Regions from separate parts of the Homo sapiens genome. Here region 1 is linked to region 2. The links come from fine-mapping of genetic effects on gene expression. Tissue or cell type: whole blood. Region 2 holds a variant in brackets; the other region holds the start of a gene. All regions are shown on one strand. Distances are between the middles of the regions.

Region 1 (2,685 bases), 59 kb after region 2:
AATACCACTTAATACATGAAAAAGGATAAAAAATGCACTAACCATTAAGTGTATGTATGCCCATCCCTCAGATGCACAAATAAAATTAGCAAAAAAGCACATATAACTGCAAAATGAACTATTAAAAGTGATTTTTATTGTATCTCCTCCAGAATATGAAACAAGTAGATCAAAATTAGGAAAGATAAAGATTTGAAAAATACCAACAAGCAAGACTTAATTAAAGAGAATTTTGGTCCATACAACAAAATATAATTTTTCTTTTATATCTGTTGAACAAAGTTCATTGAGTAACTTGGCTTCAAGGAAAATCTTGATAAATTGTTAAAAGTTGAGACTTGATAGTCTGCATTTTCTGACAATACAATAAAATAAAAAACAGCTAAAACATACTTTAATAATTTGGGAATGAATAAACTCTCCTAAATAACTAAGATTCAAAGGGAAACATCAAAATGAACTTATGCATTTCATAAAGATGTACTTAAAGAAACTTTACAACCCTAAATGTATCCCGCATAAAACTTAAGAAAATAAGGGAAAGAACAACAAATTACATCAAAAAGTGGGAAAAAGAGAAAGTACCTAAAAAGAAAAAGAGAAAAAAATTAATATTAAAAGAGTAGGGAGTATTTTATTGGACATTTCAAAATGTCCAATGAAACAGATAAACCTTTCAGACGCTTGATTCTTTTTAAATAGAGAAAGAATGAATGATATATAAATATAATAACCGTAATGATAAAGGAGCTACTAGTCTGGATATGAAAGAGAACAAAATGGAAATGGAAACATGCAATTCTATGTAATATATTCTTTAAATCTTTAGCAAAATATATCATTATAATGAAACAGAAACGAAAATATAAACAGATCGGTACGTATAAAAGAGAGGAAACTAATTAAGATGTGCATCATTCACACTCCTCAGATCCCTCCTTAGTTCCCATAGTCATCCTCCCCCACAACCCCACAGTCCGCCCTCACTCCGCCCTCAGATCCACCACCAGACAGAGACCCCCAGTCCGTCCTCACTCCGCCTGCAGATCCACCACCAGAGACCCCTCAGTGCCCCCTCACTCCTCCCTCAGATCCACCATCAGAGATCGCTCCGACTTCCACTATTCCATCCACTGACCGACCCCATCACTGACCGGAAGGCTCAGGACAGACATCAGAGATTCTTCTTGCTCAGTCCACAGATGCTGCCATCCCTCTACTCACCTGCCCCTCACCCACGTCCTCTCAGGACAGTGGTCATTTGCCTCGGGAGGTGACTATAGTCGCAAGAACCAGAACAGGACCCACTTCCTTTTTCTCAATGCCTCCCAGGCCTAGAGGTACTTCTTACAGCGCTGCCTGGGTTTGCGCATGCTCAGCAGTCTTCATGGCCTGAAGGTTGCCAGTAATCAACATGGCGCTTTGCCAAACACGCTCCCGTTTCAGCGGCTTAGGCTGGGCGCCAGTATGGCGGCGCCCATGTAGACACTCTGGCCTGTGGGCGGCCATGTTGAGGTCATGTAGAGACTGAGAGGCTGAGGGTTGTCCAAAGGAAAGGAAGCAAGCAGAGGTGTGTCCCATCATACTAAGCCAGGACACAATCAAAGCCTATCACCTCAGGTTACAGTCTTTCTCCAATGCTTCTGTGGACACAACAACACTGTTAATCAACAGGAACTAATCAGCATTTATGTAACACCGCAAACGCAGCCGAATACACATTTTATTCGTGTCGATGGGACATTTAGCAAGATATGAAGTAACCTGGGTCATAAAACAAATCTCAGCAAATTTGAAACAACTGAAATCATACAGTTTGTTCTCTGAACACAATAGAATTAAACTAGAAATCAATAACAGGAAGATAAAAGGAAAATCTCCAAACACGTGAAAACACATGCTAAATAATCCATTGTTCAGAGAGAAAGTCTCAAATTTTTAAAATACATTGAAATGAATGAAAGTGAAAGTGAATGAATTTTTAAAATACATTGAAATGAATGACAGTGAAACACAACATATCAAAATTTGTGGGATGTGGCTAAATCAGTGGTGAGAGAAAAATGTATATACCACTAAGGGCTTACATTAGAAAAGAAAAAAATTTCAAAGCAATAACCAAGCTCCCTCACATACTAGAAAAAGAAGAGCAAAATAAACCGAAGGCAAGTGAAAGAAAGGAAATAATAAGGATAAGAAGATGACTCAATAAAATGTAAAAAGAAAAATAGAGAAAAACCGATTAAACAAAAGCTGGTTCTGTAAATGTTAATAAAATTGACAAATCTGTAGAGGAGACACAAAATATCAATATCCAGAATGAAACAGGAGATACCACTGTAGACCATGACGAAATCAAAAGAATAAAGAGAATACTACAAACAACTCTACAAACATAAATTTCACAACATAGATGAAATGCACTAATTCTTGAAAAAGCACAAATTCTCTCTTACATGAAATAGTTATGTTGAATAGCCCTAGAACTGAAGTCATAATTTGAAATATCTGAAAAAGAAATCTTAAGGCCTGGATAGCTAGATCAGAGAATTCTAACAAACATTTAAAGGTTAACACGAATTATATCCAGTCTCTTCCAGAATAAAAAAAGAATAGAAAGAAGACAATAGAAAGATATTCCAACTCATGAGGCCAGTGTTACTCTGATATCAGAGCTAAAGACAG
Region 2 (2,685 bases):
TTTAACTGGTCTCTCTTACACAGAACATACTGAACTTTCTAATAGTTAAGATAAAAATCTATCCTCTTGTATTAGGAAAAATCCCATGGACTATTTAATAATAAGGAAAATAAGTGCATTTGAAGCCAATCTCTCTTAATTCACAGCTCATTTCCTTAGTGGCCCCTTTGGACCAGGAGTGCCTGACATTGGCATCCTGACACCATTGATAGAAGTGAATCAAGCAAGTTTGTGCCACCCAGAGGAAACCTCCACTTGTACTGGGAAGCTCTGGCAACAGGATCCCTGAAACTCTAGTTCCTAAAATGTTAATGTTTGCCACAAAAAGTATTGTCAAATTGAGATTAGGCAAAGTTCAAGGGATTTCTAGATTGTTGGCCATGTAATACAGTTTTGTAATACTTCTCAAATGCAGATGATCGTGGAATCTTTTTGTTGGGGTACAGTTCTTCTGGTAAAACAAATATTCTTTGAAATATAGTTTAAGAAACACTGCTCTAAAGATAATAATTTAGATCATTAATTTATTTTAAAAACGTAAAGCATTCGCTACTATGTCTTAAGTTTTAGGGTTATAGAGAAAAAAGATACAGCCCTTGCCCTCAAGAAGTTCTTGGTTTCAGTGGGAAACAATGAAATAATTACAATGTACTGTGCTAAATGCTGAGATAGAAGCAAGGATTTTGGGGATTGGTAAACATAGTGAGTTTTGGAGATGACCGAAGTTAACGTGGGGAGGCAGAGGAGGGGTGTTTCAAGGCAGTGTGTGGGAAAGCACAGAGGAGTGAAAAGGACGGGACTGCTTTGCATTTACTTTCTCTCTATATTGCATGTTTAAGTTCATAGCATCTTATAGAAGATTTTTAGTTCAGTTAAGAAATACGTAATTTTGTGAATTATAAATTGTTTTTGCTTTTTACAGGAGGGAAACACTCCACTTTTGTTTGCTATAAATTCTAGGAGACAGCAAATTGTGGAATTTCTGTTGAAGAACCAGGCAAATTTACATGCCATTGACAATTTCAGAAGGTGCAATAGTTTTTGGTTTTTTTGTTTGTTTGTTTTTTGTTTTTTTTTTT[T/C]CCTAAAAACCTGAATGTTCTAGAGTGGTAACAGTCACTCAAGTCAGAAATGTTAATAAGATTAACTTATAACTATTGGCATATAGTAAAAAATAACATGAATAATCAGTTAGGTAGAAAAGCAGTTATTTGGACTGAGAAACATAAAAAACAGTATATAGTAGGATTCATCTTCTCTTATAGACCGTTACTTGTAATCTGATATTTTTGGTCCTGTAATCTTATATTAGCTAAAGGGGTTTTGTATTTTATTAATTTTATAAAGCGTAGACTTTAACTTTCAGTTTACAACTACTACTATTACCATTATTATTATTATTATTACTATTATTATTATTATTATTATTGCTGTTGTTTTAAGCCTGCAGATAGCTCTTACTTATTTGATCCCTAGCTGATTTTGAATTACACTGTATCAGACTAGGAAAGCAATGGGGAAATCTTCATCTAAATCTTTGCCTACTTTAGATAAGTGACCTCAGCACAGTTTCTTGGCCATCAAAGGACTATAAATTAGCAACTTGTATTATGTCATATCCCAATGGAACATGAAGCTTGCTTGTTGTCCCTGCCTTTTAGTCTTGGTGGTAATTTACCCAGATGAACACTTTAGCACCCAAGATGCTTATACACATAAGCTAGTACATGTATATGGTTATTATGTCTATCCTGACAGGCAAGATACGAAATTGGTGAAGTGTATCCAATTTGCTAATGAAATATCTTTATTAAAGTTCTTGAGTGCTGTTATTTCTTTATTATTTTAGAACAGCCCTCATGCTTGCAGTACAGCATAACTCATCAAGTATCGTCAGCCTCCTCCTTCAACAAAATATAAATATCTTTTCTCAAGACCTGTTTGGCCAGACTGCCGAGGATTATGCTGTTTGTTATAATTTCAGAAGGTATGTGCTTATATTAAAAGACCAGTTAATACTAAATTAAGGTTTAAAATAATTACAAATATTGCATCTTATACATTAGGTGACAGTTCATAGTTTGTTTGAGGTAGTTTGGAATGGCAACAAGTTAGTCCACTTTTTAGCCAGAAATCAAACAGAAAGCTAGATTAGTTAGAAGTAGCAATGAATGCAAGATTCTTTCAGGACTTTTAAAGACCTTTATCCCTAGGGATCTCAGTGTTGTTCATTTTATTCCAAGTATAACCCTCATATGTGAGATATAAATAACGTCACATCTTTTACTTTTTTTCTTCTTTCTTTTGTTTTGAAACAAGGTCTCACTATGTTGCCCATGTCCCTGAGCTCAAGTGATTCTCCTGCCTCGGCCTCACAAACTGCTAGCCACCATGCCTGGCCTGACTTTTCTAATTAGTTATTGGGTCTTGAAATATCCAGTTTAGCAGAAAATCTTGTATTGTCCCCTGGGGCTACCTCCTATGCCTTCCTCCTTTGAATTTTTCAAAAAGCTAAGGGGTTCTCTAAGTCCAAGGAAGACAATCTTACTTTACAAGTCAGAAGAAGGGGGGAAAAGGCCATTCTAGTCATTCTGTTGTTTCCATTGATTCACTTGCTGTATTGCTGCCATTGTAACTGGTCCTGCAATCTGGTAATGATTAACTTTTGCCACCAGGATGCTGTTACTG

What was found. PIP is the estimated chance that this variant, and not a neighbour inherited with it, causes the effect.
Region 1: ZNF484 starts here. The variant in region 2 is fine-mapped to the expression of ZNF484 in whole blood (INTERVAL, PIP 0.98).

Annotation. Positions count from the first base shown.
Region 1 is chr9:92,876,666-92,879,350 of GRCh38, forward strand. ZNF484 (zinc finger protein 484) reads right to left here and starts at 1,373. Exons shown (of 5, transcript NM_031486.4): 1 at 1,225-1,373. RefSeq lists enhancers at 1,128-1,663, 1,177-1,616.
Region 2 is chr9:92,817,396-92,820,080 of GRCh38, forward strand. It overlaps the pseudogene ANKRD19P. Among named protein-coding and RNA genes, the nearest start is that of BICD2, 54 kb to the left of the region's middle. The variant T/C (reference allele first, on the strand shown) is at 1,080.